7 linked regions of the Homo sapiens genome follow. The protein of the gene in region 6 purifies or fractionates together with the protein of the main gene of each other region. This does not show direct contact. Each region holds a gene or a part of one and is shown on either strand. Other genes may lie near its edges. The genes, in order: COPRS, KIF16B, RIOK1, LYST, MYB, GAR1 and TAF1.

Region 1 (3,538 bases), on a different chromosome or scaffold from region 6:
AACAGGAAAACAATCAGCTACAAAATCACCAGTGTCTCCTGGATTCCAATCCTTGGTCAACAGTGCTAGATCTACAGAAGCAAAACTAAAATTTTTTTTCTTTCACAGAGTAGTTTTAAGCCTCCAAGCGTTTGAATCTTTAAAATGTCATTCAGGGACTTTAAATGAAGTAGTGAAGGCTGGGCACGGTGGCTCACACCTGTAATCCCAGCACTTTGGGAGGCCAAGGCGGGTGGATTACTTGAGGCCAGGAATTTGAGAACAGCCTGGCCAACGTGGTGAAACCCCATCTCTACTAAAAATACAAAAAATTAGCCGGGTGTGGTGGCGAGCACCTATAGTCCCAGCTACTCAGGAGGCTGAGGCACAAAAATCGCTTAAACCCAGGAGGTGGAGGTTCCAACGAGCCAAGTTCGCGCTGCTGCACTCCAGCCTGCGTGACACAGTGAGACTGTCTCCATAAATAAATAAATGGGAAAAAAGCAGACGAAGCATACTGGTTTCTCTTTTTAACCTTTATTTACAAAGAACACAACTCCTCTTGACACAAACACACACACATTTCAAGGAGGAGCCCATTAAGAACAACAACAGACTGGCGAGAATGACGGGGCCTTATTGAACACTGTCAATAAGGAACACTGGTCTGTGTACCCCAGACTAGGGGTCACTGCAAACATTTTCTCAGATATGACTTTTCACCTCCAAGACAGGAAAAGAGATCTTGACGTGGAGGCCCGCCCACCTACAAGGCAGAAAGCTCCACACTCAATCTTCAGCATCGTCAAACTGTCCTGTTTCAAAGACCATCTTGGAATAATAGGGTATCAGTGGAGGCGGATGGTGCCAGCTGGGGTCATAGATCATGTCTCCTTGTGGGGCACAGCACACCCAAGGTTTAAGCTCTTGAGAAATGCTCTCCTGGATGTCGTCAGCATCTGCAGGCAGTTTTAAAAGACAGATTAAGGGAAGGAAGGAGGGAAGGAAGGAAGGTAAAAACGGACAGCCAAAAAGGTATGTCTAGGGGACAGATCCTTGCACTTATTTTGTTTAAAAACACACACAGTTCTCCTTTCCTGAAGAATTGTAAATGCGTTCATTCGGAACAGCTGAGAAGCTATGCTTCTCAGACAAGGGTTCTTAGCAGTGAAGAAGCAAACTGGATAACACAGCACTTCTATCTGCAGCTGCTCAATTCATAGCAGAGATTTTTGGAGAGAGTAACAGTTTTGACTTTAAAACAGTGATACATTATGGAGTCAAATGCAAAATTTGGATTTTTTCAATATAAAAGAGAAGGTGTCACAGAAATTGGAGACCTGTAACAGATACCAGCCTAAGCTCATAGATGTGGACCCCTGTTCCAAACTGCCTTCAGGGCTGGTCTGACAGGTGTGTCTGAGAAGGCCTAGTTCAGGACCCCCAGAGACTCCACACCTACCATATGGATTCCCTTGATCTGCTTTCAACTCCGAGTCCCAGTCCTCATTAAAAAGATCGCCAGGCTGTTCCTTGGGTGGACAGTTTGTCCCTTCTGACAGCTCCCAGGTATTCAGTTCTCCATCAGAGTCCTCCTCATCCATGGCAAAGCCTTCCTCTTCAGAATGGGTGCCCTCACCCCGGGCAGGACTGTCATTAGGAATGCTCTGTGTTCCACGGGCTAAATTGACAAAGAGAAGATGGCCTTAGTGACAAACCAAAGAGGACCTGCTCTGTGCTCAGTAAATTTTGGGCAGACTTACTACGAAGGTAGTAAAACAAGTGCACAGAGTCTTCTTTAGCCACCGAGCACTTTTTTAAAAATGCACTTCTTTGTATGTTTTTAAAAGAGCTGATAATTTATTTTCAATAAGACGTTTTGTCTTATACAAGGCATTAATTGTCAGGTCCTTTAATTTACAAAGAGGGCTAGGGACAGTTAACATTTTCAGGTGGTTTGTATGTCACTGAGGCAAAGGGCCTCTGATAAATAATACACTTTCACAATACAAGCCTGAATTAAGTTTTTGCTCTTTTTTTTTTTTTTTTGAGACAGAGTCTCGCTCTGTCGCCCAGGCTGGAATGCAATGGCACCATCTCGGCTCACTGCAACCTCTACCTCCCAGGTTCAAGCAATTCTCTGCCTCAGCCTCCTGAGCAGCTGGGATTACAAGCGCCCGCCACCACGCCCAGCTAATTTTTTTGTATTTTTAGTAGAGACGGGGTTTCACCATCTTGGCCAGGCTGGTCTTGAACCCCTGACCTTGTGATCCACCCGCCTCGGCCTCCCAAAGTGCTGGGATTACAGGCGTAAGCCACTGTGCCCGGTTGTTTTTGCTCTTTTATTCCTCCCTTCAGCCTCAAAGAGCATGTTAGAGGTGAGCACAGGGACAAAGGGGAGCAGGGGCACTGCAGGCAGAAGACCAGAACCCATCTAATCACAATGGGCAGCACCTAGTGCCTCCCTCTGACATCAGGGAGGCCGGAAGGTACATTTTCAAAAGGCCTCACAATAACGGAGGAAAGACTGGGGAAAGATAATGGATTTCCGAGCACATAGTGCTTTGGTGATGCCAGGTCCCAGGAGAGAAGGCAATCAGCCTAAAACAGCCATGCTCTTAATACTGGAACAACAGTAACAGTGATAAGCAATAAAGTGATAGTTCAGAGCAAGGGGTCTAAAGCCAGACTGTCTGATTTCAAATCCGTGTTTTGTCAATTACCAAACATCGGACTGGGCCGGGCACGGTAGCTCACCCTTGTAAACCTAGCACTTTGGGAGGCCAAGGTGGGTGGACTGCTTGAGCTCAGGAGTTCAAGGCCAGCCTGAACAATGTCGCAAACCCTGTCTCTACAAAAAATTCAAAAAATTTAGCTGGGTGCAGTGGCATGCACCTGTAATCCCAGCTACTCAAGAGGCTGAGGTGGGAGGATCGCTTGAACCTGGGAGGTGGAGGCTGCAGTGAGCCAAGATCGTGCCATTGCACAGAGTGAGACCCTGTCTCCAAAAAAAAAAAAAAAAAAAAAAAAAAAAGTGTGATTGAGCTGAAATTTACTTAACTAGTTCCATAACATAAATATAGAATTACCATATGACCCAGCAATCCCAGTCCTAAACATATACCCAAAAGAACTGAAAACAGCTGTTCAAATAAAACAAGGATACTCACAGCAGCACTATTTACAATCACCAAAAGGTAGACACAACATCAAATGTCCATCAATGGATGAATGGAAAAACAAAATGTGGTATATGCATATGATGGAATTATTCAGCCATAAAAAGGAATGCAGTGCTGATACATGCTACGGCATGGATGCACCTTGAAAATACGCTAAGTGGAAGAAGCCAGACACAAAAGGCCACATATTGTTATGATTCCCTTTACAGGCAACTCACATTTGCCTATCCAGAACAGATAAACCCACAGAGACAGAAAGCAAATTAGTGGTTGCCAAGAGCTCAGAGAAGGAAGGAATGGAGAATGACTACTTGGTGAGCACAGGGTTTCCTTTTAGGGTGATGAAAAGATTCTGGAACTAGGTAGTGGTGATGGTT
Region 2 (4,601 bases), on a different chromosome or scaffold from region 6:
TCCCGACCTCATGATCCGCCCGCCTCAGCCTCCCCAAGTGCTGGTATTACAGGCGTGAGCTGCCAGCCCTATGCTTATTTCTTTACCTTGGCAATTGCATTTCCTCCTCTCACCAATTGACTGACCTATAAAAGCCAGGGGAGACTGAGACCCCTCAGATAATAATGCTGGGTTGAGCCAGCTGCTTCGGTTCCCTTCAGAGCCCTTTATGTAGTGACGTTGCCTCTGGGCTTACAGATGACAGAAGCCCATGGCCTCAGGGAAATGCCGATCAGAGAATACACAACACACAAAAATAACAATAGAATCTGTGTACGGTTGAGATGGAACCTCTAGGGGATTCTAGAGGCTAGAGGAAGAGATCTCCAGTGCTTCTGCCATCTCTTTAGATAAGAGGGTGGAACTTGAGTTGAGCCCTGAAGGGATATTGCCAGCGACCATATAGATAATTTCTGTTAGGTGCTTGGCTGATACTCTTTGGAAGTTGGCATTGTCAGCCCATTCTACAGATGAGGAACAAGGGCTCAGAGACTGTAATAAGGAGGTCTCTTATTCAGAAATAAGAAATAAGACCGCCCAAGGTCACATAGCTAGATACTATGATGCTGGATTTGAATCCAAGTCTCCCCTACTCTAACTTCCTAAAGTCCTTTCATTATACAGAAGACTTAGTTGAGAGGTGGGCAGGGGGTGGTTGGAAGGTAGGAACATGTTTATTTCACTAATGATTTTAGACAAATTGAAGATTTTGTAAGAATTAGTTGCAAGGCAGGTAGACAGGGTGTTGTGAGGACTTTTCTTTGTGAAGCCTGGGCATTTGGGTTTTTGATCTCTAGATCCCTATGCTGGCCAGTATAACTGTCGGCCACCTATGTGACTATTTAAGTTAACATAAAATAAAATAAAAAAAGGATTTTAGTTAATTGCATTAGGCACATTTCAAATGCTCAACAGACACATATTCAATAATGTAGATATAAATATATCCACCATCCTGGAAAATTCTCTTGTGCAGCAAGTCTGAATAAAGGCTTGAATTCCAGCTCTTTTACTTTCTACCTCCATACCTTGGCACTTTATTGAACATGTCTGTGCCTCAGTTTCTTCATCTGTAAAATGGAGATCTCCATAGGACCCACCTCGTGGGGCTGGAATGGTAATTTAATGAGGTAGCATTTCGTACAGTGCTGGGCCCAAAAGTAAGCGTTCTGTAAATATCAGGTATATTATTAGGCATTGTGAGCTACTGATGGTTCTAAAACAGGGCTGTCTTTCGCCAATTAGTGTTTTCTGAAGTTTCATCTAATAGTAGTGTAGGGAAATAATAATACTAGCACCAGTAATGGTGAACTTTTATTTACCATTTGCCAAGGGCTGTGCAAAGTGCCTTTTATGCATTATTATCTCCCTGACTTTCCTGCCACCACTCCGTGACGCAAGACTGAGGTTCAAGATGTCTGTCTGAGTGCTGACAACCAGTGCAGGAAGACAGTAAAGAGAACTGAAATATGACCCATGGCGATTGGATTCTGGGCATGGTTATAATTGGAAAAGGCAGAGGCAAGGGACAAAACTTATAAACAAAGCCCTGAAGAAGCAATCACTGTATTTTCTGATTATGAAAATAATGTATGCTTATGAAACGTATGTGTTATGCAGAAAAATATACCGAAGAAATCAAATCGCAAATTGCTCATAATCCCACGATCTGGAGCTAACTACTCATAAACTTTTGGTGCGTTTGCACCTAGTCTTTTTCCTGTTTGTGTAGGAACGTCGTCATGTACACACTTCTATATCCTGCTTTTTGCAGTTGCAAGAGACATTCTAAAGACCAGTCAGCAGGACATAGAGAAGTGGGGAGTCAAAGATGACTCTGAGTGGCTTGGGGCCTTATTAAGTGGAAGAATGACCTTTCCCAAAGGCAGTGATGCTGGCCCTACGCGGGTTGGGGTGGGTAGAAGGGCGTGTTGGTCTGTTGATTTGTTTCGGGGTGCTGGTGGGAACTCCGGGCAGTAGAAACTCAGGTGAGTTATCAGCTCTGCGGATGCGCATTTGCAGATGGGTCACTGGAAGGTGATAGTTGCTGTGGTGGAAGTGAATTCTGTCTCTCAGGAAGGGTAAAGCAGAAAGAGAAAGGGTAACAGCAGTGCTGCATGAGCCGGGTTCAGGCTGGAGCTCTTCAGTGGGCTAGCCGAGTGACTGGGCAAGTTGATTTTCCTCTTTAAGGCTCAGGTTCTGTTTTGTAAAACAGTGATTCTCCAAGTGTGGTCCAGGGACAACTGGGTATCAGTGAGACTCTTTTATAGGGGGTTCACAACGTCAGAACTGTTTTCACAGTACTACTAAGATGTTATATTCCATTTTTTCATTCTCTCATGAAGGTACAGTCAAATTTTCCAGAAACTACATGGTGTGTGATGATGTCACGGCTCTATGGGCTGTGCATTTTGTTTAAAATTTTCACAGTTTTAATTTCTAACATGGTAACTATCAGTAGATATAATTGATGTTAATAAAAGCTCTTGAGCCTCCTCAGTAATTTTTTAAGCCTATAAAAGCGTCCTGAGGCCACAACATTTGAGAACCACTTCCATAAAATAATGCTGTATAAGTAGTTGAGATCAGATGAAATAAATAAATATATAATAACTGTCCACTAAATCATAGTTACTATTATCTTTTATACTCACTATGGTTACTGACAGCCAGATTTCAGGAGGTAGGAGTGGAGGATCAAGTTGGAGAGAGAAGGGGCATGGAGAGAGGAAGGGAGGAAGGCAGGAGAGTAGAATGTCACGCCTGACCAGGGGGCTCAAGGCTTGGGAGGAGGGAAGGTCGCCAGTGTGAGAGGCTGCACAGTCAGGTGGTCGGGCTCAAGTCTGTGGAGGGGTGGGAGGCAGTGCCATGGTTGTGGGAGGCTTGTGCAGTGTGATTGGGCTGTGAGGGCATTGGAGGTAGCCTGTTGCTGCCCTTCCAGTTAATGGAGAGATGAAAGGAAGGAGGGAGCCTCATTTCCGTTCATCTAAGCAGAGGTTGACTCCTGTAATCTTTTTTTTCTTTCAGTTTTTTTTTTTTTATTATACTTTAAGTTTTAGGGTACATGTGCACAACGTGCAGGTTAGTTACATATGGTATACATGTGCCATGTTGGTGTGCTGCACCCATTAACTCGTCATTTAACATTAGGTATATCTCCTAATGCTATCCCTCCCCTCTCCCCCCACCTCACAACAGGCCCCGGTGTGTGATGTTCCCCTTCCTGTGTCCAAGTGTTCTCATTGTTCAATTCCCACCTATGAGTGAGAACATGCGGTGTTTGGTTTTTTGTCCTTGCGATGCACACGTATGTTTATTGCGGCACTATTCACAATAGCAAAGACTTGGAACCAAGCCAAATGTCCAACAGTGATAGACTGGATTAAGAAAATGTGGCACATATACACCATGGAATACTATGCAGCCATAAAAAAGGTTGAGTTCCTGTCCTTTGTAGGGACATGGGTGAAGCTGGAAACCATCATTCTCAGCAAATTACCGCAAGGACTCCTGTAATCTTTTGAAACTTTTTTACTCCATGTTTGAGGCATGGCCTGGTCTGCATCCCTGGATCCCAGCCCTTACCTGGACATGACAAACCCAGGCTCAGCAGAAGACAGATTTTTTTGTTTGTCTCTTTTTGTTTTGAAGAAGAGAAAAAGAAAACAGGGAGTTTGGGGTTGGTGAAAGAAGGCTGGAGGAGCAAGGGAGGGAAGGGGCTGCTGGCTGGAAAGAGAAAGGAGGGGAGAGTTGCTGCTGTTGCTGACACCTTGAGTTGGGAGCGCATGGAAGTTTTTTCTTTCTTTTAGGTGAACTTTATAAGTAATATGATGCAAATGTCTGGTATTTTTCCTTATACAATATTTTAAAATATCTTTGTGTGCAAAATACACTTATACAAGGTGTATTAGTAGTTTAAAAGGTGCTCTTGAGTGACTTGGGTCACATAATTTGGTTTTAAACTTCTGTTGCTTTATTTTAAACATGGAAACTGTGTGAGCATGAGAGTGGAGTGGGAGAGAGTGGAGTGGCAGAGATCGAGTGTGTATGTGTTTCTTTTTGCCTGTCAGAGAGAGAGAAGTTATTTAGAAATGTCCAGTTGTGTGATATATAGCAGTTTGGTCTAAAGTTGATTGATGTGATACTTCCTTGTTTCTTGACTGTTTTTCTAAGTTATTTTGATAGCTTTGGCTGTTTTTGCAGATTCTGGAATTGGGATGCCATCTTACTGAAGCTTGTTTTGTGAAAGAGAATATGTTAATTATACTTAGACCTGTAGCCTGGGAAAAGAAGTAATAGTGTTTTAGCTCCTTCCTGAGGACTGAGAGATTTATTTTGGTGGCTTTGACTGCCTTTCCTCACGTTCAGGTTATAAAAAGACAGGGGAAAAAATCCTTCCAGGGAGGTTGGTCAGCACTGGCTTGGACTTAGCCCGCACATTCATCCAAGCACAAAGGAGGTAACCACCAGTGGGGCCAGGAAGCTTGCCTTCGGTCACTCCTATTATCCCTGGGCGGAGCATTTGTGTTTTTTGCTCTGTCCATTTCCAAATGTATTCATTT
Region 3 (4,601 bases), on a different chromosome or scaffold from region 6:
CATCATCCCAAACTGATATTCTGTACCCATTAAGTAACAACTTCCCATCCCCTGGCAATCACCATTCTACTTTCTGTCTTTGTGAATTCACCTACTCTAGGTACCTCTTATAAGTGGAATCATATAGTATTTGTCTTTTTGTGTCTGGCTTATTTCACTTAGTATGATGTCTTCAAGATTCATCCATGTTATAGCATGTGACAGGATATCTTTTTCTTTTTTTGTTTGAGACAGGGTCTCACTCTGTCACCAGGCTAGAGTGCAGTGGCGTGATCTTGGCTCACTGCAACCTCTGCCTTCGGGTTCAAGCAATTCTACCACCCTGGCCTCCCTGAGTAGCTGGGACTACAGGTGCGAGCCACTACACCCGGCTAATTTGGGTATTTTTTGGTAGAGACAGGGTTTCACCATGTTGGCCAGGCTGGTCTCCAACTCCTGGCCTTAAGTGACCCGCCTGCATCGGCCTCCCGAAGTGCTGGGATTGCAGACATGAGTCACCACGCCTGGCCTAGGATTTCTTCTTTTAAGGCTGAATAATGGTCCAGTGTATGTATATACTATATTTTGTTTATCCATTCATCTGTGGATGGACATACGGGTTGCTTATACCTTCTGGCTATTCTGAATAATGCTGCTATGAACATGGATGTATAAATATCTCTTCAAGATGCTGCTTTCAGTTCTTTCGAATATACACCCAGAAGTAGAATTGCTGGATCAAATGATATTTCTATTTTCAAGTTTCTGAGGAACCCACCATACTGTTTACTGTAGTGGCTGCACCATTTTACATTACCACCAACAATGCACAAGGGTTTTAATCGCTCCACATCCTCACCAGCACTTACTAATCTCCATACCCTCACCAACACCTATTATTTTGTTTTTTGTTTTGTTTTGACAATGAGAGACCCCCTAATGAGTGTGAGGTGTATGTTATTATGGTTTTGGTTTGTGTTTCCCTGATTACTAGTGACGTTGAGCATCTTTTCATGTGCTTCTTGCCCATTTATATATTTTCTTTGGAGAAATGTCTTTTTTTTTTTTTTTAAGAGACAGGGTCTCTCTGTTACCCAGTCTGAAGTACAGTGGTACAATCCTGTCTCACTACAGTCTCAACCTTCTAGACTCAAGCAGTTCTCCTGCCTCAGCTGCTTCAGCCTGCTGAGACTATAGGTGCAGACCATGACACCCAGCCAATTTTTTTTTTCTTTTTCATTTTGTTGGGACAGGGTCTCACTGTGTTTTCCAGTCTGGTCTTAGACTCCTGGGCTTAAGCACTCCTTCTGTCTCGGCCTCTCAAAGTTCTGGGGTTGCAGGCATGAGCCACAGTGTCCAGCCCCATGTCTTTTTTTTAATCAGGTTTGGTTTTTTTTGTTGAGTTGTTTGTATTTTCTGGATATGTCAGATACGTGATTTGCAAATGTTTATTCCCATTCTGTGACTTGTCTTTTCACTCTGTTGATTGCAAGCTTTGATGCACAGAAGTTTTAAATTTTGATGTGATCCAGTTTATCTATTTTTATTTTTGTCTCTGAATCATAGAGTTTTGAACACATGGCATGTATGCCTCTACACAGGTTTTCAGGTTTGTTTGTTTTTGAGATGGAGTCTCGTTCTGTTGCCCAGGCTGGAGTGCAATGGCACAATCTCAGCTCACTGTAACCTCCACCTCCTGGATTCAAGTGATTCTCCCACCTCAGCCTCCTGAATAGCTGGGATTATGGGCACCTGCCATCATGCCCAGCTAATTTTTGTATTTTTGTAGAGATAAGGTTTCACCATGTTGGCCATGGCAAGTCTCGAACTCCTGACCTCAGGAGATCCGCCTGCCTCGGCCTCCCAAAGTGCTGGGATTACAGGCATAAGTCGCCTTGCCTGGCCAGGTCTTCAGGTTTTATCCTGTCCTTTCCTCTTTTTCCATTTCCTTGCAATACCTTCCCATTTCTGCCTTTGCTCAACTTTGCTCCGCCTGGTGAACTTTAAAGCTCCAGTTAGAAAGCTCTCTGGAGGGGTATTTCAGCAGAAATTGTTTTCATAGGTGTAGTCTCCTACAACTATAATAGAAGTAGTCACACTGTGTCACTTATTATACTAAGTCCCTAATTCTGTCACCCTCAATTATGAACTTTTATGGAACAGGAGTTTTCTCTATTGCCAAGTACCCAATATCTGGCCCATAGTAGGCAATCACATCTGTTAATGGAATAAATAAGTGTGTCATTTTTATTCCTCAACTTTTTAACTTAGCACTGACTTTCTTTTTCTTTTTCTTTTTTTTTTTTTTAAATGGAGTTTCCCTCTTGTTGCCCAGGCTGGAGTGCAGTGGGGCAATCTCGGCTCACTGCAACCTTTGCTTCCTGGGTTCAAGCGATTCTCCTGCCTCAGCCTCCCGAGTAGCTGGGATTACAGGCATGCGCCCCCATGCCCAGCTAATTTTGTATTTTTAGTAGAGATGGGGTTTCTCCATGTTGGTCAGGCTGGCCTTGAACTCCTGACCTCAGGTGATCCATCCGCCTCGGCCTCCCAAAGTGCTGGGATCATAGGTGTGAGCCACCGCACCCGGCCTCTTTTATTTATTTATTTTTTTGACGGAGTTTCGCTCTTGTCACCCAGGCTGGAGTGCAGTGTGCAATTTCGGCTCACTGCAATCTCCGCCTCCCAGGTTAAAGCAGTTCTTCTGCCTCAGCCTCCCCAGTAGCTGGGATTACAGGCACCCAGTAGCTGGGATTACAGGAGCCCACCACCACTCCCGACTAATTGTGTGTGTGTGTGTGTGTGTGTGTGTGTGTGTGTGTGTGTGTGTGTGTGTGTGTGTTTGAGATGGAGTCTGGCTCTCTCACCCATGCTGGAGTACAGTGGCACGATCTCGGCTCACCACAACCTCTGCCTCCCGGGTTCAAGTGATTCTCCTGCCTCAGCCTCCAAGTAACTGAGATTTCAGGTGCATGTTAGCATGCCTGGCTAATTTTTGTGTTTTTAGTAGAGACGGGTTTTCACCATGTTGACTAGGCTGGTCTGGAACTCCTGATCTCATGATCCAGCCGCCTCAGCCTCCCAAAGTGCTGGGATTACAGACGTGAGCCTCAGCCTCCCAAAGTGCTGGGATTACAGGCGTGAGCCTCAGCCTCCCAAAGTGCTGGGATTACAGGCATGAGCCTGTAATTAGACTGCACCTGGCCTAATTTTTGTATTTTTAGTAGAGACGGAGTTTCCCCATATTGCCCAGGCTGGTCACAAACTCCTGATCTCAGGTGATCTGCTGGCCTCACCTCCCAAAGTGCTGGGATTAGAGGCGTGAGCCACTGTGCCTGGGTCAGCACTGATTTTCGTGTCTAAACTCAAAAAAAAAAAAAAAAAAAACCTCTGCTCCCACTATTTTTTCCTTTCTTCTATATAGAGAAGAGAACACTCAGTTTTACAAACCAAAAGAACCCTTTGGAATCTTTGTCACCCTCGTTTCAGTCATTGTTTGCTCAGAGAGCTTTCTTCAGTGCAGCAGCAATAAAGCCGTATATTCAAGATTTACAGCCAGCCTTTGCAATTCCCTTCGCCGACTGCTCAGGATTTAAGGAATGGTTCTTTCATTCTTTAGGTCTCTGTATTCCTTTAGTAAATGCTAAAGCATTTACTAAATGCAAAAGCTAATTATTTAAATTTAGTAAAAGTAGCATAACTTTTGAAAAAGGGGGGCTAGGGATCCCCCTAGGCTAGAAGAGTTTGATTTATTGTTACTTTTGGGTTGATGGCAGCCTTTTTGGTGAGGTCTGTGCTGGAAAGCTAACTTGTACCATTAGACCTCACTAAATGCTTTCCTAAGTGTGAGGAGGTGATACTTAAAAAGACTGGAACAATTTTATACCAAAACTGGGACATGGATGTGCCTTCTGCAGTTTGAATATAAAAGAAAGTCATTTTTGTTTTCTTTCCAAGGCCATGGAAATAGCATCTCAAAGGACCAAGGAAGAACGGTCTAGCCAAGATCATGTGGATGAAGAGGTAGGATTTATTATCTATTCACAGCCTTTGGAAACACTTGTGTTTTGAGGGTTTTTTTTTTTATGTTGCTAGAGCATAAACTTGATTTAAATAGATAAGCAGCTTTTTCAAATGATGGTAATATTTCCTTAAGATATATTATAGTAAATGATTTAAGTGAGCCAAGTTGGATAGTTTACATTTCACTGTATTGGTCCACTCAGCAACCTGTTAGCCCATTGTCCTAGATGGAGAAAATTTTTAAAGAGCCTGTTAGGATATAGGCGTCAAGAAGGAAAAGCCTGTTTTTAATTTGCAAATGTGAGTTTTTAAATGACTTAAATATTGATTCTAGAAATGTTATAGATTTTAAATATTATGCTTTGATAAAAACGAGTCAGGGTGTTTTTTTGTGAAGGAGCCATAGTAGGCTTTTAAAAAAAATTCTCACAACTCTTAATGGTTGACTATGAGGTGCCCTGTGTTTGTCGGCAGCTCTCCACCTTTTTCACTGTAGCAGCTGGGTATGTTTCGTAAGGCATAGCCAGGCAGCGCTTGCCAACTGTAATTCCGCCCCTTTCCCTCCTGCTCAGAAAAGCTTTTTGGAACAAAAATGAAGGAGA
Region 4 (4,601 bases), on a different chromosome or scaffold from region 6:
AGATGTGGTGGTGCACGCCTGTAATCCCAGCTACTTGGGAGCCTGAGGCAGGAGAATCTCTTGAACCTGGGAGGCAGAGGTTGCAGTGAGATGAGATCGTGCCACTGCACTCCAGCCCAGGTGACAGAGTGAGACTCTGTCTCAAAACAACAACAACAAACAAAAGAGAACAGAGTTAAGAAAGTAAATCTGATTTAAAACTATATATTATATTCTAACTTCAACATAAGAGATGCTGTAGATTATCTGGTATTTAGTGCTGTTGTTCACACCATTTACAAATCTCTTCCCATAGTACCACTAATTAAAATGTAAGGATGTATTATATTCTCAAAAATAGTATTCATAGACCTGATATAATTTAACTACTTTAAGATTTTTCTAAAATTATTTCAAAATCATACACTATATGCCAAATGTTCTCTAAAACTGAGGTTTAAATAATTCTTTATTCAAATTATTTCTCAAATGTTTCAGCACTGAACTAGGCACCAGGTATAGACACTATTATTTCATCCCCGGTGCCTAGATAGGGCCTGGCGTATGGTCAACACTCAGTAAATACTTCACAGGGGAAATGAATGAATTCTCCCTTTAACTAAAAAGATAATTAGATCAGTCTTTCTCTTTGCAGTATGTAGTAAGAGCTATATAAAAAAGTAGCTGTAATTTAGAGTGAATAAATTAAAATCTGTAAATAAAAAAATCTGTGCTTTACTAAGACAGGGAAAGCAAACCAGATGGGAAGAGGAGAAATTAAAAGGAGTCTGACAAATTCCACCCAAGCAAAAGATGCAGACAATGAAGACAACTTCCCCCAAAGAGCATTAATCAGATTTCTTAAGTGATTAACAATTTGTGAATTCTGCAAACTCAGAAAAAAATAAAAGCAGAGAGTTAGTGAATCAATAAATAAGCAGAAAAACAGTATTACAAAACCTTAGATACCTCCTTAAAAAAAGCTCCATGAAATTCACTAAAAATACAGGAATTAAAATACAATAATTTTTTTTTTAACCTGAGAGATCTTCAAACATCTCACAAACATGTCACAAGAAAGGGTCAAGAGGAAAACTATTAATCTCTCCAATGAAACATTTAAAGTTTCATGTACTTTATAGACATATGATTTCTTCAAAATCATAAATTAAAAATATCTATCGACCTTACATAGAATAATTCTACCCAAGCTTGAAACAAAATATTAAATATATCCTTTAGGCTGGGCACGGTGGCTCATGCCTGTAATCCCAGCACTTTGGGAGGCTGTGGTGGGCAGATTACTTGAGGTCAGGAGTTTGAGACCAGCCTGGCCAACATGGTGAAATCCCATCTGTATGTACTAAAATGCAAAAATTAGTCTGGCATGGTGGTGCACGACTGTAATCCCATCTACTCAGGAGGCTGAGGCACAAGAATTGCTTGAACTCGGGAGGCTGAGGTTGCAGTGAGCCGAGATCACTCCACTGCCCTCCAACCTGGGTGACAGAGTGAGACTCTGCCTAAAAAAAAAAAAAAAAAATTATACTTTAAAGGCAACACTAGAAAAACTAAGCTAAAACAAATACTGCAAAAGTCACTTATAGAATACTGGTAATAGAAAGCAGTCTTTAAAATAAGCAAAGAAACTTTAATTTCTTTATTCAGACTTTTCACTTCCAACTTTTCACTATCCATTTTTCTGATGTTATGCTGCACACCTAGACTCACTCCTTCTGATAAGTGTTTCTGCTTCTTTATACATTTTCTAATCATCAGTACATTCAAGTACTTCCCCCAAGAAGCACCATGGTTTTTGTATTATTGAAGGAAAAATGTGTTTGCCTAAATAATTTTTCATATTTAGTATGAATAAATCACAATAACATATAGTGTTCTGAATCTGAATCAGAATCAAACATTCAGGCAGAAGTAACTTTTCTATGAAATTTTGATAACACAAGTGATATGATAAAGGGAAAAAGCATACCTGTTGCCTTTTCTTCTTGGACAGGTATCTTCCATACCAGTGGAAGGAGAGACAGAAGAAGAGTCAGGAGTTCTTCTCTACATGTCAATGCCTATGTCAGTAACAAAAGAATCCTTCATGTTCTAAGGCGATAAGACACATCAGTTCCTAATGTCTTGTCTTAAACTGAACCAAAAAATCCTTTTTCTTGAAAGTCTGCATTTGAAAAGCTAAGAATCAAATTAACCTATCTTCAATCCAGTTAAAGCTGTGATACTTTTAAGTTTATAAGCCTTTCTAATGATAGAAGAATCTAAGAGTATTTGACAGTATTTAGCACACTCCTGCTGATATTTCCAAAAATAGCTGTTATTACCACCATGCACATTGCAAGAATTCCTTACCTATGAAGAAACAGATTTGCTAGGTGAAAATGAAAAGTTAAGCCCTATTAATTAGCAAAGCAATGCTACAAAGTTACTAGAAAAATGTGAAGCCTTCATGCAGTTAAATGAAAAACTCAGAGACGATTTTAAAAGAGAAATTGACATTATTAATAAATAATATATAAGGAGAGAAAGACTTATTAGTGAATGTAATCCAATAAATATTTATTGACTGCATACTATGTCCACAAAAATACTGTCTTACCCTTTCTGGAGGATATGGTCCAAGCCCTGGAGAAGGTCCCCTCATTTGGTCCATAAAATACATACACATAAACAGTTAAAGAACAGCAGAAGGCATGTAGTATGAGTAAGTATCCAGGGGTGGTAGAAGCATTCAGTTTAGGAGTTCAGAAAAAGGAGCAGTCATTATCAGAAGTATGGAAGGAGAATGGGAGCTAGAGAGCTAGACCTGGGACACCTGGGACATGGGTAGTAAAGGATTTAACGACAAATCAAGTTTGAGTTCTCGCCTTACACCAATCAGTGGGAGAGGGGGTCGCATGATGACACAATCAGATTTGCTGAACAGAATTAGTTGGAAGGGGAAGCAGTGTTAGAGGCAGGGTAACAATAATCCAGATGAGAGAGATGATGACTTTCTGAAGTACTCCAACAACAGAAGGGAAAAGGAGACATATTTGAGAAACTGTAAGGTAGAACTAAAATAACTTGCAGTTGATTATCTATGGCACATAAGGGAGAAAAGAAAAGATCTAAAAGGACCCACAGGTTACTGGTTTCAGCATCTAGGTAGCTGATAATGTATTCACCAAGACAGGAAATTTACAAGTGGTATTAGGTTGGGATAAAGATGATGGATTCACTTTTCAGACATATGGAGTCTGAGACGTCTATGCACTATCCTAATGAAGACAGCTTTTTAGTAGACAGTAAATATATAGATCTGGAACTTAAAAAAATATGAAGTAAATAACAAGATTTAGGAGTAATTGGGGTGGAAGGCAAGAAGATATGTGAATTTTCCCAGGGTGAGAATATAGAATGACAATAGAAGACCATCAAGAATGAAACTCCGGACTTTAAAGACTTAAAGATGGGCAATGCTAAAGAAAAGGCTGAAAAGGCTTCTATTGAAAAATAGCCCCAAGAAAGAGAAGTACAACCAGAGAAACCAAGGAAGAGACCAGTTCAGGAAAGAAAGGAGTCAGCAGGGCCAAAGCTGTTGCCCTTTCACTGTGTGACATGATGGCCGAAAAGCATTTAGTAACTGGAATGCCCCTTAACTAACGGCTTTAATGGAGTGATTTGACTGCAACTCCAATTACAATAGGCTGAGGAGTCAAAGGAAGTGAGAAAGTAAAGACAGGACATTCAGACTACTCCTTCTGGTGTCCTGGTTGTGAAAAGGCTCAGAATTCTTCAAAAAAGGGGTTTAGTAAAATCTAAACCCCTTTTTAGGTATAGAAAACCCTTCACGGCAATGATTCCTGTTGAGCTGTCCAGTGTCAGCTCCCTCTGCCACACATGAGCCCTCCGCATACATCTAGCTGGTAAAGGTTTCCCCTGAAAACTACTGGTCTCTGTGCTCCCAATAGGTCTTCCTCACATACACTGTTTCTGCAATTCTCCATCCCCATCCTCCCATCTGCCAAACTGCAACTCATTCTCTAGGTTTTTAGTTCCTCTGTGGGGAGACTTCTCTAACACCCTACCTGCTTCCCTTAGTAAACTTAGCTTTCATGTTCCTGATTTGCTTCCATTCCAGCAAACACCCTGCTGAAGTGTTACTGTCTGAATGCCCATTTTCCTCTTTTATCCGTTAAACAAATATTTCTTGATCCCCCTACTAAACAGGCCAGGCACTGTGTCAGGTACTTCAAATGCTGTAGTGAACACAATATCCATATCCTCATGAAGCCTACTTCCTAGCACAGGAGACAGAAAATAATGGGTAAAAATAAGAAAATTTCAGATATAATGTTGTGCTATGAAGGAAATTATCTAGGAAAGAGATTACAGAGTGACAAAAAGGGTAACATTTTAGACAGGCTATTTAGGATGGGCTATTTGAGCAGATACTTAATTGATGAGAAGAAGGAATCCATGAAAAGATTTGGAGGAAAAGGGCTCCTAGCAAGTATATGAAGTGCTGGGAATGGGTTTGGCTTTTTCATAGAAAGCAAGACAGCTCAAAAGCTCCTAGATCTGATAAATAACTTCAGCAAAGTCTTAGGCTACAAAAT
Region 5 (4,601 bases), on a different chromosome or scaffold from region 6:
TGAGAAGAATCAGCAGTGTATCCTCTCAGGCCATATGGGAGGAAAGGCCTTTTTTTACCAACCTCTTAAAATTTCTAAGTTTATACTGAACCACAAGGGTGCAAATGCTTTGGAGCATCACTAGAGAATACTATATAAACTTTCTCCTGGATTATGAAGCTCAAGAATAAAACTATTTTTAATATTTTTGATCTACATCATTTTAATGCAAGATTTATCATTAAAAGTATTGCTTTCCAAAGGAACAAAATCTGTTATATACTACTTAAGTGGGAAAAATGGGACAAAATGAGCTTCCATAGTTATCCCTCATAATGAGGTCATTTTCTTGCCTTGTTCATTAAAAAGAAAGCATTATTACCCTGACATTATTTAAAAACCTGGAAGTAGTATGAGAATTCAAGAAATACATTATTTCTTTAATCAATGAAGTAAAAAATTAAGCAAAGTGGTATAATGAAATGAATACTGGTGGCCAGGTATGGTGGCCCATGCCTATAATCCCAGCACTTTGGGAGGTGAAAGGATTGTTTGAGGCCAGGAGTTTGATACCAGCCTGGGTAACATAGCAGGATTCCATCTCTACAAAAAATATTTTAAAATCAGCTGGGTGTAGTGGGGTGCACCTGTAGTCCTAGCTACTCAAGAAGCTGAGGTGGGAGGATCCCTTGAGCCCAGGAGTTCAAGGATGTATTGAGCTATGATCATGCCACTGCACTCTGTCACTCATGTGTGACAGAACAAGCCTCTGTCTCTAAAAAATAATAATTAAAAAAAATAAAAGAAATGAATGATGGTTATCAGGAAAATGGTAGCTGAGTTCCTTTGAGTAACTTAACCAGCTACGTGAACTGCCAGAGACAAACTGTCTTCAGTTTCTTTCTATGCATTTAGAGTTTTATAGTTTACCAAGTCCTTTGACATTCATTTTACTTGATCCTAACACTGGCCCTGTATGATTCATTTTGGAAATGGGGAAATTGAGGCTGGGGAAAGCTAAATGTCTTCACCCAGGGCTCACTGTCAGGTGGATCCTGGAAGTTCTCAACCAAATAAACTCTAAGATGTCTTCAATCTCTAAAAGCTATGTAGCTGGTTTATCTAATAAAACACTTACGACTGATGAAATATAATTTACTCACCATACATTTAAAGCAGAATGTTCAATACCCACTCCCTCATTCTTCCCGATCAATATATTTTTTGACATATTATTACCGTCCAGGCAGTAGCTTTGCGATTTCTGCCCATCTGTTCCCCAGTCTCTTGTGTGCCTGGTAAATAATTCTGTCTTCCTCTTCTGTCCAGGAGGTTTTCTTAACTTCTGGATTCAAGTGGTTATGCCACCTCTCCCTACATTGTTTTCCAATTCTCCCCTTTAAGTGCTTGGCAATAACAGACCAACGTTTCGGACCGTATTTCTGTACAAGCTCTATCACCTTCAGATAAACACACAAAAATAACCTATGTTTTAAAGTTATGTAATGAGTCAGTATAATCATTCTTCAGTGTTACAAGATCTTTAGAAAATTTCCAAAATTTGCTTTCATTCACTGGAAATATGGGAATAGAGTCCTCTACTTCCTGTTTGCCCATTTTACCTGCTTCCTCAAATAGGAAAATATTAGCATTTTGGGAATATTCTTAATTATGAGTCACACACCAATGAAGAAAGAACTTACTCTCTGATCTTCTTCTTTGGTCCAAGGACCCTTGATGAGCTCAGGGTTTAGTACTTTCTGCCATCGGTGCTGGCACTGCACATCTGTTCGATTCTAGACAAATAAAGTATGCACCACCATAAAGATATGATGTGATAAGCACGTGAATTTTTTGTTGTAATAGGAATCACACATAGACCATATGCAGTGAAAATATTTAAGAACATTTTAGAGCATGTTTAGAGCCCATCTATCCCTCATTACTTACAGGCTACAGAACATGCAAGTAATATATCAAAGTTGCATCTAAAATTAGACACTCTGCCTCCTGAGGGAAACATTCCTGCCACATGATCTAAAGGACCATCATACTACACATGTGCCTGCCAAGTTAACCTTAACCTCAGATACTTTTGCAGAGTATCTACATAGCCTGAGGCTTGATAGAGATTCTATGTTGTCAGGCTTTCATGGAAACCACCCTAAAAGACTAAAGTTTGCTTCCCATTCAGACAAGAGATGTGCTTCAATCCAGGACCAAAGTATTTATATTGCAGAAAGAAAAAAGATGCATAAAAGATAGGTCCTATGTTACAGGAGTTTGTAAACTTATAAGAAGGAAAAGACAAGTAGATGACTGACTATCACAGATGCTGAATTTGATTCACTTGGAAGAAAAGACCAAAGCAAAATGATACTGAAGTGAGGAGAGAAGCATCTTCTTAGGAGGAGAAATGGTTTCCTTGGGAGGAGTCTTGAAGAGCTCTTCATAAGGACTTTGAAGGATGGACAGAACTTTAATTGGTGACATAAAGGGAGAATATTCTAGGAGGTGGGAAGACCAGGAGCAAAAGCCCAGAGGAGGTAAAGCAGAAATAAATTCAAGCAAACCTGCTTAGAGAGAGGAAGCAGGAAACAGAACTGGAGCTGTAAGTTGGGGCAATAGAGGAGGGCCTCTGTGTGCCAAGTCAAGGCAGTTTACTTAATTTGTGAGATTCTGTCACTGTGGTTGGTTTTGAAAAGATAAGGTACAGCTGCATTTTAGGAAGTTCCACCTGCCAATGGTGTTTGGGATGAATGGAAAAGTAGAAGACTGGCTGGGCACGGTGGCTCATGCCTGCAATCCTAGCACTTCGGGAGGCTGAGGTGGGCAGATCACTTGAGGTCAGGAGTTTGGGACCAGCCTGATCAATATGGTGAAACCTTGTCTCTACTAAAAATACAAAAATTAGCCAGGCATGGTGGCGGGCACCTGTGATCCCATCTACTAAGGGGGCTGAGGCACGAGAATCGCTTGAACCTGGGAGGCGGAGGTTGCAGTGAGCTGAGATCGTGCCACTGCACTCCAGCCTGGGCAACAAAGCTAGATTCCATCTCAAAAAACAAAAAACAAAAAACAAAAAAAAAAAAAAGAAAGAAAAATGGAAAACTACAAGTGGGGAAGCCAGTTAGGAAGTTATATGATAGTCCAAATGAGAGGGCAGGAGCCCAACCTTCAGCACAGCCATGAGAATGAAAAGGACGGGACTGACTATAAAGGAATTCCAGGGTCCTTAGTAACTGCTTAGATGTAGGGGTTGGGGGAATGTGATAAGTCAAGAAAGGTCTTCAGAATTTTAAACCTTGGTGCCAAAAGTATTGCTATTGACAAAAATAGGGAATTCAGGAAAAACTGACTTGGAGGAAATATCAAGTTTAATCAACTACCATGTAACAAATCATCAAAATACTAATTATCCTATAAATGAAAAGATAAAACAAGAAGCAACTGTTTTTAAAATTTGATAATCTAAATTATAATAATCGATTCTAATAATCTAAATTCTAATAATTTAATTATATGCATTATAATATAAAATATAAGTTATGGGTAGGGCATTTCTCCCACTTCTTAAATGTGAGTAAATTATACACTATCTTAATAACTCCTCCTAGAATATTTTATAGAAATCTTTGGGAGAAGCTTTCCTTTCGTTATAAGAAAAACTTACTAACTTACCGGGAGATAATTGGCAATAACTTTCCAGTCATCTGTTCCATTCTGTTCCACCAGCTTCTTCAGTTTTTCATCCTAAGACATTTAAAGGTAATCCTAGGATATCAGTTATTTACTATATAACTCTGTTCAAGTTAAAGTGAATGAGGGAACGAATCTAGAATAAAAAGTCTCTCTAAAGTATCCGAATACAGGAGATATTAATGTAATATACGGACTTGGGAGTATAGATTTATTTAGAATCAGACCAGAGTTGGCATCTTGACTCAACTATTAATTGTGTAAAGCGGGTATACCATTTTACCTTTCTGGGCCTTAGTATTGCCATCTATAAAATGGAAATTAACAGGGTTATTTGGGGATTACATGGGGCAATTTATTAACATGAGGCTGATATTAACAGGGTTATTTGGGGATTACATGAGGCAATTTTGCAAAACATTTATCATAATGCCTGGCATATATTGAGTGTTTATTATAAATAACTGCTTTACTCTGTTAGGAAAAAATGCATTCCAGTGCTAGATTCAGTACACATTTACCTATGGTAATAAATAGGATCTTGAGCAAGAAATAGAATATTTCCAGTTAGTTTAACTTTTTATAAAGAAATAAAGACCATTTTTAAAATTAAATTTGAAAGCTATATAAGAAAATCAGTTAGATTTAGATAGGCCAGATGTGTTAGAACATAAAAGACATTAAACATTTCCAGCTAATCAGTTCTTTTAGTTTATATGCTGTTCACAATCCTACCAGTTCATAAGTATATAAATGCATTCCTTCTTATGTTTCTGCAAAGGTAACATTCACACACAGTGGAGGTCCCTGGTACAATACAGACACAAGAATTAGGAAACCAATGTTGACAACAGAATTTCCGTATCATAAGGATTATCCAAGTGGATAATCTTAATAGGTAAAATATGAATTTCCTATGGGCC
Region 6 (4,339 bases):
AATTTGATTCAAAATGAAATGCCTCAAAAAAACCCAGAAACTAGGCCAGGCGCAGTGGCTCACACCTGTAATCCCAGCACTTTGGGAGGCCAAAGCAGGCGGATCACCTGAGGTCAGGAATTCGAGACCAGCCTGACCAACATGGAGAAACCCCATCTCTACTAAAAATACAAAATTAGCCGGGCATGGTGGCGCATGCCTGTAATCCCAGCTACTTGGGAGGCTGAGGCAGGAGAATCGCTTGAACCCGGGAGGTAGAGGTTGCAGTGAGCCGACATTGCACCATTGCACTCCAGCCTGGGCAACAAGAACAAAACTCCGTCTCAAAAAATAATAATAATAAATAAACAAATAAATAAACCCAGAAACTATAAGGAAAAAAAAGGAAAAGATGTGGAAATAAAAGCTTAAAGATGGACAATGAAAAAAAGATATACATAAGCTAAACGGTAAAATTTCCAACTGGTTTGTCTACTGATCTATATGTTATTTCCATTATTGCCATTTTAGATTTATTTTTAATGTTAAAAAAACAAACTGTAGAAATGTTGCGCTATTATTATTTGTCCTTGGGACAATGCCATCACCCTTTGGTGCTTACTAACATCTTTTCCAAACCACGAGCAAAAGCCCTGGCCCTAACACTCCATGAAAATTTCATCACCACAATTCCAAATCAAATAATCTCCTGTCCTAAGCTGTAAAAGCATAACTGCCTATTCCTGTAAAAACTGTAATTTTCAACACATTTGCTCATCATATATATTAATGGCCTATGTATTTATTCATCCTGCTGCAATTCCATCAATCAGAAAAAGATAAAACCCCAAATACTGACAAAGACAACACTGTATGCTCCTCAAATGAGCATTCAAGAGCGTTCCTCCATGGGCATGTTAGAAAATTTAACAAACGATATAGAAACATCATTCCTTTTGAGAAGTGAAAAATGAATGGCAGGGTAAATGGCTCCATATCATGGCATTCTAACTTGCTACCACAGTCATTTCTTTACATCCACTAGCAATGGTGACCAAAACCAATTTCATTTCTAACATCCTTACCCAGCAATCTGAACATGTAGTATGCAATCGAATTCGTGTAGTATACTACACGAATATTTACGTGTAGTAAATAACACCTTAAACTTTTAGAGTCCCTTTAAAAAAGTAAAAATAAAATAACATTCAGTAAAACTTCTAATATTCCATTTATGTTGGATGAGAAAAATTAACTTTAGAAATTTCTTGCTATAGTTTTCACTTCAACAGAGCTACTGCATCTTTAATACATTACTAATATGGAAAATTTTTAAATCAATTATTAATTGCAATTAGAGAAACAGCTTAACTGATTTATGTATTAAAATACAAAAGGCAAATACAAAGCTATCTTCTCATACATAAAAGGCCAGGGTTTTGAAAGGCAGTGTCAACTTGTAAATTATCTTAAAGTACTGCTACAGTAGTCTATTTTTTAAAAGATCAGTAATATAAATAAACAAATCCTTTTTTCGATCTGCAATTCACTGGGTTTAAGCTTTAGTTATTCCTTTCTACTTTAAAAAATGGGTTTCATTTAATAAACACACTCTAAATAACTTAAGGGAATAAAACACTTTATTTTAAAAATTCAAATATGCTTCAAATGAAAACTCCTATCCATTTATTGAGCACCCACAGAGTGCCAGGCACTGTACAAAACATTAGAAAGACTTGTTCATGCTCTTTTAGAGCAAAATTCACTATTCCGTTGCACTTTGCATGATGCTGACATTTTAGATCCATTGTCATAAAATGACCAAGATCTTCAAGACTTGTTCAAGAAACAAGTTTCCAATCCATAGTAGAAACAGATCATGCAGGTTAATGCAGAAGTCAACTGGTGATGTCTGTCAACTGTTTCACTTAATGTCCTCTCCCTGATTAAGAGAAAATTAAAGTATTAAGGGCACAGAAAATGGATTTTTAATAGTATTATAACCTAAATCTCAAGTTTAAAATCAGCATTAGTTCCAATAATGTTTAGCAAACATACTTTACCAAATTTAACTGTCATTCATATTACACCTTTATTTTTCAAATTAATAATAAAGCAAAACAAATTAGAATTAGGTGAAAAAATTGAAAAGAAAAGGCAAAAAAAAAGTGATATAAAATGAAACCACAAATTAGGCTAAGCAAAGAACACCATGGTGTTCTATATACTTGCTGGCAGAGAAAATTAAACTTAAGTAAAAACAGAAAATGCCAGATAATATCAATTTTAAACATTAAGCAATTTAAAGACTTTTTAAAATACTCACCTCTGAAACCACCACCTCTTCCTCCTCTGAAGCCCCCACCTCCACCTCCTCTTCCACCTCTAAAACCACCTAAAAAACATTTATTAAATAATAACGCAAAGTATTTAAATAACAATAGAATATAATAATCATTAAGTTATTAACTGTATAACCTCTTATATTGATAAGCCTAAAAAGATCAATACAATAACTATAATTATAATGAATAAATATAGATTCACATATTTTATCAGGGAAAAAATTTTAGAAGATAAAAATGGAGAAACTGTAGTAGTTTACCAACTGGGCAACAGGCTAAAACCCCAGATTATTCCATTTCAATAAATTAGAAAAACTTGTTAAAGTATGATTCAGTCTTGTTAAATGTATGACTATTGCCTTAGCTCTTGCTTATGATAAATACTTTTTTGATTCAACTAAGGATAGTTTGATGGAACTGTGGCTTTTTATCCTAACAACAAAGGGTGGCAGATATGGGTGCTTTTGCTCTGGGGGTAAGATAATAAATATGATAGTTAAGATTAACTGAGCTACATAAGTAAGATTTTAAAAAAATAAGACAGCTGTGAATTTTTTGAAATGTTAAATGATACTCAACATAACATGAGAATAGGGGAATCTCTGTTCATCAAATTCTCAAGAAGGTACCCCTGAGAATTTTCCTACCTATATGGACACAAAAAAATACCTTTATGGAGTGAAATGGTGATTAAATTGAGAAACGCCAAAAGTGAGGCGTTCCTTCTCTTTTTCTGATCCAGTAACAAAAGCTGTCCAAGCCCAACTTTCAGCTCCTCTCCCTTTCCACTTTGGCTCTGCCCATCACCCCATCACTCGCCCTTCTCCTACTCACAGGGCATGGCAGCCCCACTCCCCAGAGCCCTGCTCATCACCTAGCTGTCCATAATGATGAATGTGCCCAAACCTTAGGGGAAAGGCATACATCAAAACAGGCATACATCAAAATACCCCAAAACCTTGGGGGAAAGGCATACATCACAACAGTGAGATCACAGTAATGAATTTATTAGTAATAGTTCTTGACATGACATCAGAAGATATGCATTTTAATTCTTGGGTCTGCCAATTGTTTGATTGGGGCAAATTAATTTCTGTAAGTCTCCGTTTCCTCATTCATAAAATAAGGATATCATCTATCTCAAAAGGTTTCGCTGAGTATTAAAAATATATACATGGAAATTAAAAGAATGTATGACCAGCTTTCAGCATGCAGTCTACACTCAATAATATTAACTAAGGAATTAAAATTAAGATAATCTTACGGTTTATTAAAATGTCCAAGAAAACATGAATAACCCAAAGAAATGAAGTCCCTCAAAAGTATACTTTAGTAGATTTTCTTCTTTTTAAGTAAGTTGTTGAAATGAAGCATTATTATTATGGACAATCTGCCAATATTGGAAAGCAGCTTTAATAAAAAGAACCATAAGGGAGGTTTGCTATGTACAAAGCTAAATTGTATTGTATGAATTAGCTGTGAAAGTCACAGTTAATTTCATTAGAAATTTTCCCCAAGTAACTTACCGCCTCTGCCACCACCTCTGCCACCTCCTCCTCTTCCTCCTCCTCGGCCTCCCCTGCCACCACCTCTTGGAGGTCCTTTCTCACCTGGAGGTCGAGGTAAAAACCTCTGCAGTGGCAGCAGCTTATATGGGTCTATATAAAACTGGAAACATAATAGAAGCAATTAGTATACAACTTGGGGGACAGTATAATATAATCATTAAGAAGCTACATGATAGAGTCAAAACTGCCTGGGTTCAAACCCCAATCCTACCACTTTCTACTACATATCCCTGGGTAGAGACTTAATTTCTTACTAACTTAGGTTTCTTTTTTTTTTTTTTTTTTTTTTTTACCTTAAGTTCTGGGATACATGTGCAGAACGTGCAGGTTTGTTACATAGGTACACATGTGCCATGGTGGTTTGCTGCACCTATCAACCCATCATCTAGGTTTTAAGCCCCGTATGCATCGGGTATTTGCCCTATTGCTCTCCCTCCCCTTCCCCCC
Region 7 (4,601 bases), on a different chromosome or scaffold from region 6:
TTTCTCCATGTTGGTCAGGCAGGTCTCGAACTCCCGACCTCAGGTGATCACCCGCCTCAGCCTCCCAAAGTGCTGGGATTACAGGTGTGAGCCACCACGCCCGGCTGGCTGTGATGTTCTGAGCTGCCAAGAGATAGTGAAATTTTTAGGATCTGAGGCCTAATTCTAGTCCCTGTAATTTTTATTTTATTTTTATGCTCAACCTGGAGGAAGATAGTCCATGTAATTTTTTGCCCTGTTAAGAAGCTAGGCCAGACTCAGGTTTCTTAAAAACATGTGATAAAGATCTTTTTTTTTTTTTTTTTTTTGAGACGGAGTCTTGCTTGCTCTGTTGCCTGGGCCGGAGTGTAGTGGCGCAATCTCAGCTCACTGCAATCTCTCCCTCCTGGGCTCAGGCGATTCTCCTGCCTCAGCCTCCCGGGTAGCTGGGATTACAGGCATGCGCCACCATGCCCATCTAATTTTGTATTTTTAGTAGCGATGGGGTTTCTCCATGTTGGTCAGGCTGGTCTCGAACTCCCGACCTTAGGTGATCTACCTGCCTCAGCCTCCCAAAGTGCTGGGATTACAGGCATGAGCCACCACGCCTGGCCTGAAGTTAAAGATCTTTCTGAACTATAACAGTACTTTATAGTATATTTTTGTTCCCAAGTCCCTTTGTATTTAGAATTCTAGTTTCCTATTTTTCTCCTTAAATAGGTTTTTTTTTTTAAGGTATGCCATGATTAATGTAAAAAACTTTGAAAATACAGTATAGTGTTAAAGTCACTGGTAATCTATCTGGAGATTATCAACTGTTAAGTTTTGGTGTATTTTCAGTGTTCTGTGTGTGTATGTAGTTGAGCTCATTTCCGTATGTACAGTTTTGCATACTGTGCTTTTCACTTACTAAATATTTTTCTCTCTTTCATTTTTTATTTTTCATTGTTGAGACAGGGCCTCACTTTGTTGCCCAGACTGGTTTCAAACTCCTAGACTCAAGTGATCTTCCTGCCTCGGTCTCCCAAAGTGCTGAGATTACAAGCAAGAGCCACCCCACCCAGCCACATAAATATTTTTGTGTCATTTAGAGTTCTTTATAAAAATGTTTAATGACATGGGAAACTCGTTCATTTTATTTTAATTAAATTATTATTTTTTGTAGAGGTAGAGTCTTGCTATTGTTGGTCAGGCTGGACTCCTGGGCTCAGGTGATCCTCCTGCCTCAGCCTCCCGAGTAGCCAAGACTTCAGGGGCATGCCACCACGTCTGGCTTGAGAAACTCATTTTAAATGGAAATAAAGAAGATATGAAACAACATATATGATATCCTATTAGTGTAAATGAAAAAAAGCAGACTATATAAACATAGAAAGCTGGATTACTTTTATATTTTGGAGGAAAAACAAAATTTTTTCTTTTTTGAGACAAGAGTCTCTGTCGCCCAGGGTGGAATGTGTTGGCGCGATCTTGGCTCACTGCAACATCTGCCTCCCAGGTTGAAGTGATTCTTGTGCTTCAGCCTCCCGAGTAGCTGGGATTATAGGCGTGCACCGCTGTGCCCAGCTAATTTTTGTATTTTTAGTAGAGACGGGGTTTCACCAGGTTGGCCAGGCTGGTCTTGAACTCCTGACCTCAAGTGATCTGCCTGCCTTGGTCTCCCAAAATGCTGGGATTACAGGCGTGAGCCACCACACCCGGATACAAAAATGTCTGATTTTTAAAACCTAAGAAATAGGTTTTTTCCCTTCCATTCTGCCCACTTTATGGGTTATATATTACTATTACGAATGTTTCATAATTTACCGATAACATGTTGCATTTGTTAATACAATTTATTACCATTTATTGTTAGCATACTTTACCATATCATTTATTGTCATAATTTAACCAATTCCTTCTTAAACATTTAGGCTATTTAAATTTCAACTATTATAAACAGTATTGCAGTGGACATTTTTGACTGCAACATTATTTTTATTTATTTATTTTTTGAGACAGAATTTCACTCTTGTTGCCCAGGTTGGAGTGCAATGGCACGATCTCAGCTCACTGCAATCTCTGCCTCCTGGGCTCAGGTGATTCTCCTGCCTCAGCCTCCTGAGTAGCTGGGATTACAGGCATGTGCCACCACACCCAGCTAATTTTTGTATTTTTTGTAAAGATGGGGCTTCTCAATGTTGGTCAGGTTGGTCTTGAACTCCTGACCTGAAGTGATCCACCTGCCTCGGCCTCCCAAAATGCTGTGATTACAGGTGTGAGCCACCGTGCTGAGCCTGCAACATTATTTTAAAGTGAGAAATACACTGTGTAGGTTCCTTTTCAGTGGACACATGAATAACTCCACTAACTCGCTCTACTAACATGAGTAACTCTTTTTATCTTTGCCAGAATCTTGATTGAAAGGGGCATAAATGTTTTCTCTGTTACTATTTCCTCCTTGCACTTTGACTAGGTTTTGCAGCCACTCTTGATGATGACAAACCTTGGTACTCCATTTTTCCCATTGACAATGAGGATCTGGTATATGGACGCTGGGAGGACAATATCATTTGGGATGCTCAGGCCATGCCCCGGCTGTTGGAACCTCCTGTTTTGACACTTGATCCCAATGATGAGAACCTCATTTTGGGTATATTACTGGCAGAGGCCAGTGTTTCTTCTCCTTTGAAAACTTGCTGTTAATGTCAACGGGCAGGAGGAAATCAGAAGGGTTGGAGATGATTAGGACTAGAAACCTGTAGGTAGCGGCTTGAGAGAGCGAAGTTTTGGCTGTTAGTTTATATTATTTGTGTATATGCTTAGGGAACACTCACGTAGGAATGTTGGAAAGTTGCAACTTTGAGATGTCAAGAGCATAGTTTGTTCCGTTAGTGAATCATGGACTCGAAACTTCTAGGTAGCAGTTTGAGAGAGCAAAATTGTGGCAGTTAGTTTTTATTATTTGTGTATTCCCTAGGGAAAACTCATGTAGGACTGTCGGAAAGTAGTACCTTTGAGATGTCAAGCGTGTAGTTCACTTAGTGAATCATGTACTAGAAGTGATTTGGGATGGGATGAAAAGATACAGGTGTAGTTCAGTTAGTAAATCGTGGACTAGAAGTTACCTGGGGGGGGGTGGGATGAAAGGTCTAGTTAAGACCTTCACTGGAACATCCGTCACCTTAAAGAAGAAAACTGGATACTTGTCTGTAGGAAAGGTGAATCTTCAGGGAGAGCAACTCAAGTGATTTTTGTTTTATTCTCAGAAATTCCTGATGAGAAGGAAGAGGCCACCTCTAACTCCCCCTCCAAGGAGAGTAAGAAGGAATCATCTCTGAAGAAGAGTCGAATTCTCTTAGGGAAAACAGGAGTCATCAAGGAGGAACCACAGCAGGTGTGTGAAGAAAAAAGGGGCTTGGTGTTTAGAAGAACAAAGAAAGGTAATAGAGAAGGATAGTCTGACCGAGATTTGTTTGATTATCTATCATTAGAACATGTCTCAGCCAGAAGTGAAAGATCCATGGAATCTCTCCAATGATGAGTATTATTATCCCAAGCAACAGGGTCTTCGAGGCACCTTTGGAGGGAATATTATCCAGGTACAAATAGTGTCTTTTCTGTGATAGAGGAGAACCCCATGGCTTTGTTCTGACGGAGGATATGGGAAAATCTTGCTTAGGATGGAATTAGCTAATTTTAACCCTTCTATTTCCTGTTTTAGCATTCAATTCCTGCTGTGGAATTACGGCAGCCCTTCTTTCCCACCCACATGGGGCCCATCAAACTCCGGCAGTTCCATCGCCCACCTCTGAAAAAGTACTCATTTGGTGCACTTTCTCAGCCAGGTCCCCACTCAGTCCAACCTTTGCTAAAGCACATCAAAAAAAAGGCCAAGGTATAATTGAATTCTGGTTAGAAAACAGCTATAAAGGATATTGGGGTATAAATTAAGGGAATGTACCAGGTATTAGATTGTATTAGGGAATTGGTTATTTTCTCAGATGTGATAGAATGTTATTTTGGTTATTTAGGAGAATGTCTTTATTGTTAGGTGATGCATGTGAAAATATTTAAAGGTGAGGTGTCAGAATGACTGCATCTTTCAAAAACTGTCCAGCAAAGTCTATAGAAAGATAAAAGTTTAAAAAAATGGCGAAATATAAACAGCGACGTGGGATAATAAGTGTTCATAGTACAGTCGTCCTTCGTTATCTCTGGGAGATTGGTTCTAGGACCTTCTCTGGATACCAAAATCTTTAGATGTTCCAGTTTCTGATAAAATAGCATAATATTTGCACATAACCTATGCACATCCTCTCCTATAGTTTAAATCACCTCTAGATTACTTATAATACCTACTCCAATGTAAATGCTATGTGAATAGTTGTTAACACTGTTATTGGTTAGGGAATAATGACAAGAAAAGTCTGTACCTGTTCAGCACAGATGCACTTGTATTTTCTGAATATTTTCTATCTATGGTTGGTTGAAATCACGGATGCAGAACCCATACATGGATATGGAGGGCCGACTGTACTATTCTTTGAACTTTACAGTATGTTTGAAAATTTTGATTATGAAATTGGAAAATAGGTAAAATGTTTTTGGTGTGTTTGTCTCAGATTGAACAACGTCATTGT

What was found.
Region 1: the proteins of GAR1 (region 6) and COPRS purify together in Homo sapiens (affinity purification with mass spectrometry; 4 studies listed by BioGRID and IntAct, with this or other methods). This does not show direct contact.
Region 2: the proteins of GAR1 (region 6) and KIF16B purify together in Homo sapiens (affinity purification with mass spectrometry; one large-scale study listed by BioGRID and IntAct). This does not show direct contact.
Region 3: the proteins of GAR1 (region 6) and RIOK1 purify together in Homo sapiens (affinity purification with mass spectrometry; 4 studies listed by BioGRID and IntAct, with this or other methods). This does not show direct contact.
Region 4: the proteins of GAR1 (region 6) and LYST purify together in Homo sapiens (affinity purification with mass spectrometry; one large-scale study listed by BioGRID and IntAct). This does not show direct contact.
Region 5: the proteins of GAR1 (region 6) and MYB purify together in Homo sapiens (co-immunoprecipitation; one large-scale study listed by IntAct). This does not show direct contact.
Region 7: the proteins of GAR1 (region 6) and TAF1 purify together in Homo sapiens (affinity purification with mass spectrometry, with the first as the bait; one large-scale study listed by BioGRID). This does not show direct contact.

What each region holds. Positions count from the first base shown.
Region 1 is NC_000017.11:31,851,371-31,854,908, forward strand, and holds the end of COPRS (coordinator of PRMT5 and differentiation stimulator), read right to left. Parts: intron 1,661-3,538; coding exon 1,442-1,660; intron 939-1,441; coding exon 769-938; 3' UTR 501-768; downstream 1-500. UniProt on the Homo sapiens protein: Histone-binding protein required for histone H4 methyltransferase activity of PRMT5.
Region 2 is NC_000020.11:16,563,142-16,567,742, reverse strand, and holds part of KIF16B (kinesin-like protein KIF16B), read left to right. Parts: intron 1-4,601. UniProt on the Homo sapiens protein: Plus end-directed microtubule-dependent motor protein involved in endosome transport and receptor recycling and degradation.
Region 3 is NC_000006.12:7,406,453-7,411,053, forward strand, and holds part of RIOK1 (serine/threonine-protein kinase RIO1), read left to right. Parts: intron 1-3,933; coding exon 3,934-3,999; intron 4,000-4,601. UniProt on the Homo sapiens protein: Involved in the final steps of cytoplasmic maturation of the 40S ribosomal subunit. Involved in processing of 18S-E pre-rRNA to the mature 18S rRNA. Required for the recycling of NOB1 and PNO1 from the late 40S precursor.
Region 4 is NC_000001.11:235,811,002-235,815,602, forward strand, and holds part of LYST (lysosomal-trafficking regulator), read right to left. Parts: intron 2,061-4,601; coding exon 1,970-2,060; intron 1-1,969. UniProt on the Homo sapiens protein: Adapter protein that regulates and/or fission of intracellular vesicles such as lysosomes. Might regulate trafficking of effectors involved in exocytosis.
Region 5 is NC_000006.12:135,186,965-135,191,565, reverse strand, and holds part of MYB (transcriptional activator Myb), read right to left. Parts: intron 3,733-4,601; coding exon 3,661-3,732; intron 1,776-3,660; coding exon 1,683-1,775; intron 1,440-1,682; coding exon 1,219-1,439; intron 1-1,218. UniProt on the Homo sapiens protein: Transcriptional activator; DNA-binding protein that specifically recognize the sequence 5'-YAAC[GT]G-3'. Plays an important role in the control of proliferation and differentiation of hematopoietic progenitor cells.
Region 6 is NC_000004.12:109,822,000-109,826,338, reverse strand, and holds the end of GAR1 (H/ACA ribonucleoprotein complex subunit 1), read right to left. Parts: intron 3,993-4,339; coding exon 3,851-3,992; intron 2,375-3,850; coding exon 2,306-2,374; intron 1,922-2,305; coding exon 1,908-1,921; 3' UTR 1,602-1,907; downstream 1-1,601. UniProt on the Homo sapiens protein: Required for ribosome biogenesis and telomere maintenance. Part of the H/ACA small nucleolar ribonucleoprotein (H/ACA snoRNP) complex, which catalyzes pseudouridylation of rRNA.
Region 7 is NC_000023.11:71,379,309-71,383,909, forward strand, and holds part of TAF1 (transcription initiation factor TFIID subunit 1), read left to right. Parts: intron 1-2,434; coding exon 2,435-2,611; intron 2,612-3,227; coding exon 3,228-3,355; intron 3,356-3,452; coding exon 3,453-3,560; intron 3,561-3,682; coding exon 3,683-3,856; intron 3,857-4,601. UniProt on the Homo sapiens protein: The TFIID basal transcription factor complex plays a major role in the initiation of RNA polymerase II (Pol II)-dependent transcription.